2 separate regions of the Homo sapiens genome follow, and region 2 is linked to region 1. A link means that fine-mapping ties the variant in region 1 to the expression of a gene that starts in the linked region. Tissue or cell type: pancreas. Region 1 holds a variant in brackets; the other region holds the start of a gene. All regions are shown on one strand. Distances are from middle to middle.

Evidence for each region. PIP is the estimated chance that this variant, and not a neighbour inherited with it, causes the effect.
Region 2: ERBB4 starts here. The variant in region 1 is fine-mapped to the expression of ERBB4 in pancreas (GTEx, PIP above 0.99).

What each region holds. Positions count from the first base shown.
Region 1 is chr2:212,279,355-212,287,777 of GRCh38, reverse strand. All of the region lies in intron 1 of ERBB4 (erb-b2 receptor tyrosine kinase 4), which reads left to right. Among named protein-coding and RNA genes, the nearest start is that of MIR548F2, 140 kb to the left of the region's middle. The variant C/T (reference allele first, on the strand shown) is at 3,714.
Region 2 is chr2:212,535,963-212,541,599 of GRCh38, reverse strand. ERBB4 (erb-b2 receptor tyrosine kinase 4) reads left to right here and starts at 2,798. Exons shown (of 28, transcript NM_005235.3): 1 at 2,798-3,151. The coding sequence starts at 3,070. RefSeq lists an enhancer at 3,767-4,267.

The DNA.
Region 1 (8,423 bases):
TCCATCCATGTCCCTGCAAAGGACATAATGTCGTTCTTTTTTATTGGCCTAATTCTTAGGCAGTCTTTTCTGGAATTGTGACAGAAAAGGTTCAAAGCAGTTATTTTTTTTCATATTATATCCATAGTTGTGTTTTTATTGCAAAGAGCACGCCTCTTACTGGATACCTCCTATCACTATTGATAGGGAAATAAGGTCATCTCATTGACTAGCGATGAAGCCTGTTAGGTTACCCCCTGTTTGGAGTAGGCAGAGGGATCAGTTCACAAGAATCTTTTGGAGCAGATTCATTTTAAAACATAAAAAATTATGTTAATAGAAAGGTGAACAAAAAGCATATTTGAGAGGCAAAACTATGGCTACTACTGTTTGTGACAAAAATTATCAAAAGTTATACTTACATATGGGTTTCTGTCTGTCTTCTCACCTATAGCTCTGTGAAAAATAAGTGTTGCTCACTGCTGAGTACTCTTACAAGTGTGACTGGCTGGGGCTGGTGTTGCCGGTGGTAAAGGAATTTACCAAGACAGTTGTAGGGGGAGAAAAATAAAGGCACATTTATTAGAGAAAGTATGAAAATTCATTGCAAGGGTGCAATATGTAGCACTACAGAGAAGGGGCTGTCTGCAAAGAGGCAGGGGCTGGAGGGAAGTTTTATAAGGTCTTCTGGAGGGGGCTACATGCTGATCGAGGTTGTGCCATTTGGGCTACCTGTGGAGCAAGGTCGTTGTGTCAGCGCGTTGTTTATGGTTACTTGTCTCTCAGAACAATTGTTCTCTCCTACCTTGGGCCCCTCCCTGGTGGTTATCAAGACTCCACAAATATCCAGTGCCTCTTGCGCTTTAGGATATATATTAAGAAGTCACTGGCTGTGCACGGTGGCTCACGCCCGTAATCCCAGTACTTTGGGAGGCAGAGGCTGGCGGATCGCTTGAGTTCAGAAGTTGGGGAACAGCGTGGGCAACATGGCGGAAATCCCGTCTCTACAAAAAAAAAAAAAAAAAAAAAAATTAACCCTCATGGTGCCACCCGCCTATAGTCCCAGCTACTTGGGGAGCTGAGGCAGGAGGATTGTGTGAACTCAGGAGGTCAAGGCTGCAGTGAGTCGAGATTGCCCCATTGCACTCCAGCTAGGTAACAAAGCGAGACTCTGTGTCAAAAAAAAAAAAAAAAAAAAAAAAAAGTCAGCACTTATGTAATCATCTCATTTAATCTGAACAACTTTAATATGCATTTTCTCCATTGTAAAAGAGAAAACTGAGGCTCAGAGAGGTTATGCAACCCATCTATATTTATATTTTATATGTATTGTGTCCAGATATAACACAGAGATACCTTTTTGAAAAAGTTACTGAAGTTGCTTTTATAAATGTTATGGGTAGTACAGAAACTTATGTGGGTCTAGAAACTTTGATGTGTTCACTGAATTTCAAATTCGTTCAATATACTTATTATGAATCACTAAGGTTTCTTGTAGGCCCACTTAAAATATTTGTACTGTTTTAAAAAATAATTTCCTTCTGATATTGGTTGTATTTCATAATAATAATGTTAATGTTTAATGCTTCAGTAAACCGTAAGAACCAATGTAATAGTAGTTAGCTGCCTGTTTTGTTAACAAGTAACCCTGAATTAATATGTACCTCTTGCTTTGAAATCTCGGTCTCAGTAAGATTTGAAGTGATTATGAGGAGACACTCAAGGGAGCCAACGTGTAACTCATGTTGCCCATTATGACATTTGACTATATCTGTGTCGAATAAATGTCCTTAATGCTATGTAAAGGACAGAAAGATAAACAATCATGTCAAATCATACATATAATATCTAGCCAAGCCATTGACCCAAATCAAAACATATGTAGAAAGAAATAAGGGGCCTATCATCCAAGAAATTTGTTTTGATATCTATTACTGGGTATTTTTGAGCCTGAATATTAGAGAGTCTAGAGTTATATAAAATCTATTCTACTCGAATACCAAGCTGTATATTGTAGGTATGGCTAGGTATTGATGCAAATTCTTACTTTATAAATCAATTTTTGATGCTCAATTTTTTTATAATTTTTCCTCCTCTTAAAATATTGTAAGTCCTCATTTTTAACAAACTGAATATCTGTTATTGACTTTGCATTCCATATATTTGTCATAATCATTTTTTAGATTTTTAATCCAGGTTGACTTCGTAACTAGCATTTGGGACCATATATATTTTCATTCCTGCTCAAATAACTGGCTTACCACCTAACCCACTACTCTATTCAGTCTTCCCTTGAATTTTGTCATTATGGCAAAAGAACTGTGTGAAGTTATTAGCAATTTTGGCTACAGTCTCTCTTAGAATGTTTGTTGTCCTTAGGGACTCACAGCAGGCAAAAAAAAAAAAAATCACAGTCCCCTTCAGCAACCTGTGCTTTTCTGAAATATTGGCTTTGACAAGCCTGCAGGGGTGAGAAATAATTTTGTGTGTGAGGGTTTGCACTTCATGGATGTCTTTCTGAGTTAATTACCAGGAGGAAATGGAAAGAGAGCCATTCTCACCCTTACCTTCAACCACGTGATTATGTGACCATAGTGCTGAATGATTATCTCTGTTTTGGCGAAAGTCTATAACTGAGCCTTCATTTAAAACTGGTACCTGGCACTAATCTGATTGAGTATATTGATCATATTGATGTAAATATCAGACCACCTGGTCTTTCCAAGGCTTCTAATGATATCTTACATCTTGTTTTTATTCGTTTTGAGCTATCAAATTACATTAAGGTTATAAGAGAAACCTGTCTGTCTCTGATGCCCATAGCTACTTGCCATTTGAAGGGCTGCCTGTCAAGATGCTATGTCTTACCTCTCTCCAGAAAGTTCAGCTTAAAACACTGAGGCTTACTGAACTTCTGGACAATTATTTAGTATTCATAAAGAGCTTTTCCGAGAAGATTCTGCCAGCCATCCTGTTATTTGTAAACACCTTTATGCAGTGCTCAAAAATAATGTGGTCAGGTTACAAAGGAAAAATAAAATAACTAAAGAGGAAGAAATACATATTTAACTTATGTTTAGGTATAAGTAAACTTCTAAAGACAACAAGCAAATGATGGTTATGTATTTCATGCTATGGAATACACAGGCAAAAAGATACTCAAATAGTCTGTCAAATACTTCAAAAACATGAGCTAAGTTTAAAGCAGACAGAATATTTGAAGTACACCACAAATGGAAATGCCCCAGAAATCTTTTATCAATTGGGCCTTATGTTCACTCTTGTAATAAAGAGGCTTTTGGAGTTTATATGCCATAGTCTAATAGGTGACTGCTTAATGGGATTTACATTCACTCAAACAAAATTAGGCTGGTAAAAGACAATGCAACATGCTGTAATGTAAATGGGACTGACGGCAGAATTAAATGTTTGTGGAAACAGGGCAGCAGATCTATCAAGAGCTAATTAGACAGAGTTCAGAGGCAGGCTTGGGAGTAAATAGTATCAACAAAGAAAGAAGGAGGGCAAGAATGGACAGAAAAAAGATCTTTTGTGCAGAGAAGAAAAGGAACTATACAAAAGTTATTTAATTAGAGACTCAGATGGAGTTTCTCCCATGAGAAAAACTTATATTCTTATCTGAACCTGTTGATAATATTACGTTGAATAAAAACTTTGATAAATTATTGTGTGTCTAAGTGCTTCTTTGTAATAATTGACTTTAATAGCATTCT[C/T]TTCACATAGTAACTGTTCTAGCTATGTTCACTGTACCCAGAAAAAAAATTTTGGAAGTTTATTTGAAGTTTTTCTCACAGAAAGAATAACACAGAAGTTTTGCCAAAATTTAGAGAGTTTGAGGCTTTAGGAAAGAGAAAGGGTAAAAGTGTCAATAAACAATAACAATGAGGAATAACAACTGTGGATTCATTTTAATTAGCATGTGAACAAACATAATATTAATTTTTGAAAACTTCAAATTTTCAACTCTTCACTGTGGTATGTCACTATAGTAACTATTTTTCACCTGAGCCATTGTATAGGGAAAAGGATCTAGCCTTTGGTATAGCTAGGAAACCATTTTGATGAAATAAATCAGGATCTGTATGCTTGATATTCAAAGTAGTAAAGGCTGACTACTTGATACATTTTCTTTTTTAACCTCAAATTCAGCATTTAAACTAGCATTGCATGAATCATTTTCCATTAAAAAAACTTAATGAATATTTTAGGGTTTAAAATTGTTTTAACAAACTCTAAGGGGTGATACATATCTTATTTTGCATGAAACCAAGAGTATATCAGATACATTTCAGGATATTTGCATTCTGCCAGTAATAAACTTTTAATTATAACAAACCTTTCAGTTTGTCAATAATTACTATCTACCTCACAGGGCTATTGTAAGGATAAGGTGCACTAATATATGTGAAAGTGCTTGGGAAATGTGGGATTACCGTACAAATTGTGCCATATGATACCGGAATCTTTATGAGAGACTGTTGCCATGCTGATGGGCATACGGATTTTTAAATGGCAAGTGTTATATTGAGTAATTAAACCCAGCAGTTCAAGTCATACTGATTGCTTTTTTGCCTCCTGTACTACACAAACAAAGAATTGTTCTGTGGGCATGTTCTAGATTGTTTGTGGTTTGGTTAATCCGTGAAATCCATGGTCTGCATTACTGTCAGCAGTTAATGCCCTGAGATTGCTTTATTCTTTAATGAAATGATCAGTAAGATTAGAATTGTTTTGTCCCTGCCATGGAAATAGACCGAGTATGAATGCCCAGTTTCTCTTGGTGGAGTTCCAATCTGTCTCTGACCCAAAAATATAGGTGGTATTTGGCAGTTTGTCTACCCACTTGTGACAAAGACATCTATCTTTCCCCATTTGTAAAAGAGAGAAACTGGATTGGGTCAATTTTACAATAGGTACATTTTGCTTCTGAACATTCTGAACACGTAAGGCAACATCCTGTTACTTCCAGTGATATTGTCAAGGTTTCCTAAACTTGGCTAATTACCAAAGTCACCTGGGGGAGCCACTTAAAAATACAAATTCCCAGGCACTTTCCCTGGAGATTCTGCTTCAGTGGGTTTGGGGCAAAGCCAGAAGATTTCAAGTGACTCTAATGATTATGGAGGTTAGCCAAGCTGGAAAACCACTCATGAAGTGGTATAAAATATATCCCATTATTTTTGTCCATAGTAAATAACAAGTATATTATTTGTCCTTATTGGCCTTGAAATGTTTATGAAATAAATATGATGGACACACTCGAGGTCCCTGGGTTACTTCATACAAGTCGAATAATCAAATAGAGTTTGTATCTTCCCATAGTAAATCAGGGCGATAACACCTGAGTTACCTCAAGTGCAGTTGTGATAAAGAGAAATATTTTTTAAAAAGTGCTTTCCAGAGTTCAAAGGTGAAAGTAGCCTGCTTGTAATGAACAACTCAGAGACTTGGGTTTTACTCCCAGCTCTGTTGCCAAGTCACTTTGTAACCAAGTTTACAATTATTTTAGCTTTCTGAATTTTATTTGCCTTGCCTATAAAATGAGGGAATTGAAAAAATACATATCCCTGTGGTGCCTGCCAGGTTAATCTTTTCTATGGGCAGCATCGGGCTACGTAACAAAGTCCAGATGGTAGAATTGTTCACTTCATTGTTATTTAGTGACCATCAGAGAATATTATGATAACCTGAGAATTTTGGCATTCTCTCAAATATAACTTCTAAATGATCAAATTGTTCATTGCAATGTTGGGCATGTTATCAAATGATTTTTAAAATATATTTTTATACTCTGGCACACAATGCATACTTTTTTTGACTTTTAGTTTTATAAACGTATCGTGTATTGAGTGGCATAGGTTTTGCAGTCTGGGTTAGACAATTGATTTTTACACTTTATAACACATTGAAGCAGAGTTGCATAAATTACCCTTGTTACTATTTTGGAAGGTAAATAGGCCTAAAATTCTACTATGTCACACATATAGGCTCAGAATTTAAGTAGATGGAAAGATGCTATTTGGTAAATTATGGAAAAATAATATACTAATTTAAGCTCCAGGTTATTTGATGAACCACATAATGTGCCATAGAGACTTCAAGGCTTTCAATGCAGAAATTTTCTAGAAACAATACACTTCAGCTATTTAAATGCTTGCCTTGTAAGGAGAGAACAAGATGGAAAGAACTGAAAGAAACCAGAGTGACCCAAATGGCTGGAACACAGAGAGCTAGAGCAACTGATGTAAATGAAATGGGTAATCCTGACTACTACAAATAGAAATTTTAAAAATGCGAGCTCACAGAGGAATCAACAGTTCTGTGGATGATTTCTGTTTCCCAAATATCCATATGTGACTGGGGATGGCATTTGTTTAGAAGTCTTAGTCTTGTAGGATTTTACATCTTGAGGGAAAACTTTTTACCTATTGCACACTTTTAAAATTTTACACTAATTCCCGTAACATCTCACTTCTACATTTTACAAATAAAGTAATTCACATAGTGCTTTAAACATCTTGGAAAGAGGGAGGCAAATTCATCAGACTCTTAAAGAAAATCAGTTAAATTATATTAATGAAATTAGTAGACTAATGATAATAGAAGAGCAAATTGAGATCTGTGACGGTTTCAGAAGATTTCTTAAATTGCAAATATGTTTTTTAGAAAAAAAAAGAAGGGCTTTCAGTATTTCTGAGGGGGAGTTGTGAAGAAGAATTTTAGTAAATAATTCCTAGAGGAATGTGACTTTACAAAAAAAATTTTCTTATCTTTTTCCTGCTTAATTTCATTAAGTGTCAAAAGACGGAGTATAGACAGTACAAAACCAAGTGTGTCAAGTCCTCGGATCTAGGTCTGGTTCTTCTGATCATGAGAAAGCCACACACTTTCTCTGATCCCCAGTTTCTGATTCCTAAAATGAGAGCTTTGAGTGAGAACATCTCTAGGGTCCTCCTGGTTTTAACAGTTTCTATGACTTTAGTCCATCTTTAGTTTCATTCAATTCATGATGCTTTTACTTCATGCCTGCATCTTTTTCCACTGTGGTTTGCTTCTTTCTGCCAATGATTTCATTATTCTGGAATCTACTTCAGTGTGAATAAAGTTATCTAACTGTAATACTCCTGATAAAAAATGTTGCCTACTTCAGGAAAACAACAACAACAGCAACAGAAACGCAGAGAAGACATTTGAGGCATGTTCAGGAGCAACTCTTTTTATGTCTAAAAGGTGATTGGCCCAAATTTGGCTTAATTTGTATATAAAAAATTTAAGATGTAGAATATTGATTTTTACATGCTTGACTTTGGGGAAAACTATGAATCACTTCATTCTTCATTAACCTTTCAGCAAGTGTTAAAGAATTTTGGCTTTTTTGTCTCAGACATTTTTGGTGAATTAACCATTCCAAGTGGGGAGATCAGATGCCCAGACCCAAGGCATTGACAGATAAATTAAATAATGGATTTTCATGTCTTGCCTTAAAAATATGTTGGTTGCTACAGGAAAAAATTAATGAATATGTTCTACTAGCAAAAATTGCCTATATATCTAACAACTACTATATTTTTGAGAGCAACTGGGTGGCTGGTTGTTCAAACAGGTAATGAGGTACAACCTTTTATTATTTACTCAGTCTGTGTTGGTATCACATTGTGATTTAGGATTTTATTTTATTTTTCAAATAATTTATTTCCCATCTTCTGAGGCAGATTTTCAAGTTCTTTTTGAAGAAAATTTCTTTACATTGCAATTCAATTGCAGATATCAAAATTATTCTAGATGTTGTTTGATTATTGTTTGAAATGAATGAGTTTTGTTAGGATAAATAATTATTTTCTAAAACTTTATAATGTAATTACATTTCTCTTTCACACTTAAACATTTTTGGCCTATATGCAACAACTTTTTGTATCCTTTTCTAGATTAAAATATTGTCCTTAATTTAAAGACTTTCTCTAGAAACCAATGACCTATACATTCACGACGTTGGAATTTAATTTTAAAAAGAAATGTCTGTTTCATCACAAACAATAAAAAAGATCAAGATTCACCAACTTTTTGAAAGAAAAGTAAGACTCATATTGGCATATTTTTTGAAGAAGGATGATACCACAGGTCTTTTGATTAATTAAAAAAGCAAAAGCTATCTTTTAAAATTAATCTGAAGACAAAGTTAGCAAAAATTGATGGGATGAAGATAAATAGAAACAAGATAAAATGGTCATAGAATCAGCCTTTGAATCATAATGAAAACTTATTGCTTTGATGATAATTATGTGGTAAGTATATGGCAGATTTTCTTTAATTAAGATAGGATTGCTAAGTTATGGAATTATGAATATAAACCTCATCTCCCCTTTTACCCTCTTTCAGTGTATTCATTACAAATAGAAATCAGCAGCGTTCTATTATTTGTATGA
Region 2 (5,637 bases), 260 kb before region 1:
AAACTGTGGGTATGTTGGGTAATGTAATAGGTGAATCCTTGTATGGGCTGTTTAATATCCACAAAAATATATACTAAGTGTTTTTTTAAACCAATGAATATTAATGGAAAATCCTCCTTTGTCAAGAATTATTCTAGAAGATATGGGTGAGAGCAGGGCATATAGAAGATATTCTGTTATAGAAAAGCTATAAAATTGACAGGGGAACAAAAACTAACATAATTGGCACAACTATAAAAAAATCCAAAATATTCAGGCCATGAAGTTTTTGCCCTACAATTTAAGCGAAAATATGCAACTCATTTATTCACTTTGTCTTTTTTTTCTTTTTCTTTTTCTCTCTTTTTTTTTTTCAGAGATAGGGTCTTGCTCTATCTCCCAGGTTGGAGTGCAGTGGCATGATCATAGCTCACTGTAACTATTAACTCCTGGGCTCAAGCAATTCTATCCCATCTCAGCCTCCCAATAGCTAAGACTACAGGTGTGCACCACCATACCCAGCTCATTAAAAAAAAAAAAAAAAAAAGGTAGAGTTGAGGTCTCACTATGTTGCCCAGGTTGGTCTGGAACTTCTGGCCTCAAGGGATCCTCCCACTTCAGCCTCCCAAAATGCTAGAATTACAAGCATGAGCCACCACACCTGGCCCATTCCTTCACTTCGTGCAACATAATTGCCATCAGAAACCAGACTTTTTTTTTTTTTTTACTACAGAGACTTAAACTTTTACAAAAGGAAGATGTTTTTCTCATTTAAATTGTCATTCTAGGGACAGAAAGTAAGTTTTGAAAAGAAGTAGCTTTTATGGAAGAGAGGTGCCTGAGAATTTCAAAAGGATTTAAGACAAGGGGAATGAGAAGAGATTGAATGAAAGAAGAGAAAACAGAGAGAAAGAGTAATTAAAAAAAAGAAAAGAAAAGAAAACAAAGATAATCCCAAAGAGCAGTGTGCACAGTTTTGCTGCAATCAGTACCATTCTGGTCAAGTCTCCGTCATCTGCTCTAGGCTTAGTTCCTCTCTGCCCTAGGCTGCTTCTGGTAAAACCGCACGCTCAGCTTGTTGGGCGTCTTCATGGAGCCTGTTATTTGCTGTGGGTCTAAGAAAGGGAAAGCTTCAGGCTTCAGGCATCTGTACCTCCTATCTGTTCTCAGCTCCATGGAAATTCTTAAGGGATGGGGCTATAGATAAGAGAGTGGGAAATGGAGATCAAGGTCTCAAATGAAAGGCAGGGTGGTTTGATTTTTAAGCTCCCCTGATACTTTTTATTTATATATTTGCTGCTTCTAGAAAAACCAAAAAAGGAAAGTGATTCATACATAGAATGCCTGTACAAATAGCAAACCAATAACTACCCCCAGCAGATTCTGGCCCTTGCCAGGGTGCGGTTTCAGAGCTGTAAAAGGCAAGGGATATGTACATTGAAATGACCCAGTCCCAGAATATTTTAGATTCAGAAAAGGTCAGAGACTTTCGTAACTAGCAATGACCTCCAGATTAGGGACCATGAATGTGCAGAGTGAGGACAAGGAAGGGGCCTAAAGCTGGGTCTACTGTAGAATAAACAGAATCATTTAAGGTTAATTATGTTCTGATGTGGCCTCCTTAAATTCTTTCAGGCTGGGGACAATTTCTAGCCCTTTAAGATCAAATCAGTGGCTTTGGACTAGAATCTGCTTAATAAGAATGAACTCCAAAGGTGAAAAAAAAACATAAAATCTAAAAATCAAAGGATATGCCTTTATAAATGTGAAAGTTTAGTTTGGCTCAATGTTGGTCAGTTTAGAAATGTGGGAGTAATCGGAGAGATGGCATAACTGGGGGCGGGAGGCGGGGCGGTGATTATACCCCTACCACTACCTAATCCTCAGGGGCTACCAGTTACTTGCTGTACACACTTTTAAAGTACTTTCTAATTGTGGACCATGAGTGGCAGAGTACTGCGGGCGGAGGCTTTTTGCTGAAAGCAACATTGACTTTTATTTCTAGGGAAAGTCTTGTCTGTAGATGAGCACCGTGGGGCAACGGAGAAAATGCTGACTTTCTTGTTTAAAAAAAAAAAAAATTTCCGTAAGCGGCCCTCCAATGGTCCGTCCACTCAGCAGGCCAGCTGTCCCAGGCCTCTGCCAGGGAGGGAAGACGAGTGCTTCAGTGCATGGCTTCGGTGAGCCCTTTAAATCCAGCTTCCCCTGCCCCCACCAAGAGGCTCCCTTTCCCTGACAGGTGTTTTCCCAACTCCGGAGGCCCAGGATTTTGGGGAGTGGCTGAGCCAATAAGATTTCCCTTTGGAAGGGGGGGGGAAGGGCGTGGCTAGTTGGGTCAGAGCATGGGCGGGGTTTGCGCGGCTGAGCAGAGCCGGCCTGGTTGCGTGGAGGGTTGTTTTATTCCCACCGCCCCCCGCACCTTTTTTTTTTTTTTTTCTGGAGTCTTATTAATTTCTCTGTGGGCTGCAGCTGGAGACCGCGGAGCGCTGGAAATGACGCTCGGAGCTTTAATTACCGCAGCCGCCGGACAAGTGTGAGGAAAGCTGAGAGGAAAAAGAAGGACGGGATCCGGGGAGAAGCGAGAAGCTCCCCCCGCCCCGCTCCCCTCCCGATTTGGACTGGAGGTGCAAGGAAACTGAAGAAGGAGCAGAACATAGCCCGGCTGCGGGGAGAGGCCGGAAACCTACCGCCTCTTTGCAATCAACTTTTTTTGGAAACCTTTCGCCCCCCTTCCTTTTTTATTGTTGACCAACCAGTGAGAGAGAGAGAAAGTGAGGAGGGAGCGAGCAAGCGAAGGCTCACGCGGGGAAATAGCTGCACAGTCCGGCCCAGAGCGCCAAGCGCACACACCGAGCACACTCCCACACGCGCACACACGCGCTCACACTCGCCCCCTCCTCGGGCCCCGGCCCTGGACCCGCGGGCGCGGACTCGGTCGCCCGCCCTGGGAGTCGCCACACCGCGCGCGCCGCGCCCGCCCCCCTCGCACCCCCACGCGCGCCCGGCTGGGGGATCTCCTCCGCGTGCCCGAAAGGGGGATATGCCATTTGGACATGTAATTGTCAGCACGGGATCTGAGACTTCCAAAAAATGAAGCCGGCGACAGGACTTTGGGTCTGGGTGAGCCTTCTCGTGGCGGCGGGGACCGTCCAGCCCAGCGATTCTCAGTCAGGTGGGTTCCTTCTGGCACTCCGGTCGCCGAACCTGCAGCCGCCGGCGGGGCTGCCTCGAGTGGCTCCCCTGCCCTCTTCACCCATCCCGGGAGGCGTGGAGGGACCGCTTGACCGGGGCCTCTTCCCTGGGCTTTCGGTCACCCCTCTTTCCATTTGAAACTTACCCTGTATGTGTGCGTTTGCTTTATTTATCGTGAAAAATCACTCTGAGTCCCTCTTTTCTCTCCTTAACCCCCTGCTTTTCTTTCCCGAGCGTTTTGTTTGGGAGCCTAAGCGGGATCCCTTCTGGTGGCGCCTGTTGTTCGGGACATGGGAGACCCAAATCCCCAGTCAGAGGAGACTCTTCTGTCCCTGTCGGGTCCCCGAGGGCAGAACCCGCACCGCCGGGGCCGCGGTCCTGGGGCGGTGCTGGCTGGGCCTCTCCCGAGCCGAGCCCGAAGGGCGGTGGAGAGCGGCGCTCAGAAAATCGGGCTTTGCACCTGTGTGTGCTGCTGGCGACCGCTGCGCCCCCAGTCGCCCGAGCCTTGTGGCGTCAGACGCAACTCGCGCCCAGCCCGGGCAGCCGGAGTGCAGCAGGCGGGCGCGCCTCGGTCCGGGGCCCGGAGTTCTGGGCCTCTTCCGCCGGCTTCCCGGAGCCCTCTCCCCATTGACTTGAGGGGCGCTTACTCGCCTGCCTGACCTCTTAAAAAAAAAAAAAAAGGCTTGGCACACTTGAGCCAGAAGCCCGGCCTTCCCGTCGGTTGCCGTGTTTGGCTCCGGGAAGAGTTCTTCCTGTAGTTCAACTTGCTATTGGCCGGAGTCCTTCAAACTTGTCTGTTTACTGCCCGGCCAGGCTGCCGAGCCTGCGGGTCACTGGATCCACCCGAGGCGAAAGCGGCAGCGGCGATGGGTGCGCGGCCACTGCTTGCTGGAGAGCTCGAGCCCCAGGTACCTGGGCAGGCAAAGGGCTAATTGACCCCGAGAGGCAGCGCGGCGGGGCTGGCCCGCCACGGCTTGCAGGACTAATGACAGCACCTGCAGTGCAATGGAGCTCAAAGTTTCTGACACTAGAGTTTCCTGGGGATGAAAGTGGGACGGGAGAGGTCTGAGGAGGACCGGTGTCTTGACGTGGCCAAGGGGTGCCTTTTGGAGAGCCAGAGAGATTTCCGAAACCATCCAGGGATGGTGACTGGAGCGTGGGAAGTAGCTTGAGGTGATAAAGCCCCCGGGAGTGGCGATAGGGAGCGCTTTAGGCCCCCGGAGGGTGTCCTTCTGACCTCACCAAGAAAACGGCTAGCTGTAGTTTTCCCGCTCCGCCGCCGCCGCCGCCGCCGCCTCCTTTGCCTAGTAAATAACAAGTTACAATTATCGAGTCTTTCAAAATGACCTTCGAATGGCACATGTGAGGCGTTTGTGCTGGCCGTTTGCACCCTCCCAATTACTCCGAAATTCTTCACGCATACCAGGTCCCGCGCTCCAGCCACCTCCGGAATCACACCAACACGGACTTGACATTCCAAGCGGCCTCTTAGATACATCTCTTTTTATCTCCCTCCCCACTTCGAGTCCCTTCATATTTTCCCTCAATGGGTTGATTATGCACATTGACCCATTCAAAGGCATTGGCGACCGACATGCAGGCTTAGCCGAGAGGAATTTCTACGAGGCGACCTACTGGGGGCTGTCTGGTTCAGCCTCTGCCACTGGGGGACCCCGCTCCGAGTCCGCAGCAATTTGGTATTAACTGTGCGGCTCCGAGTTGAGCTATGCCGAAAAGCCCTTTTCAGAATTTCTGCAAGGAATGTAATCCAAATTAGTTCTGCAGCTGTCCTCTTCCTCGTCTCAGGCGACACTAGCTCGCGCCCTCGCTTCGTCTCTTCTCGTTTCCCTGGGCGAATTGTCAGACCCACAAGTGAGCCCATTTAGAGCGCGAGGATTAGCGTGCCATTGTTGTTCCGTGTGTGACTCTGTACTTGAAATTCTGGGGGCACAAAGGCGAGCCTCACTTGTTCAAAACACAAAGTGATCCAGATGAAAGGGCCGCACAAAGAAAAGCTCTCGGGTGCATCCCTGGTATAATTGCAACACGCATACTAAGGTGATCCATTGGAAACTGTAAATGCCCCGGGGGACTTCGTTTTTCATCCTCCCCCACCCCCACCCTGCCGCACCTGGCAGGGAAAGTTCAGCTGGTTTTAATGCAGTGCTATTATAAAAACAAGTTACTGTCTGGGGTATGAGTGAGGCTGTGTGTGTTTGTGCCTATGTATGTGTGTGGCTGTGTGTTCCCAACTAAATACATATTGCGCGTCTCCCCTCTCGCGGTTAGCAGTCAGTAGCAGTTTGGAGGAGTTTGTTTTGGTCCAAATGAGAAATTAAGTGCGGATAAGTAAACTAAGCTGCCAGAGGGCGACAAGATGTTGAGTGAATTGCTTTTAGATGAAACAAATTAAGGAAACGAGGGAAGACAATCTGCTTCTCGCATTATTAGACACGCTTGGAGTTC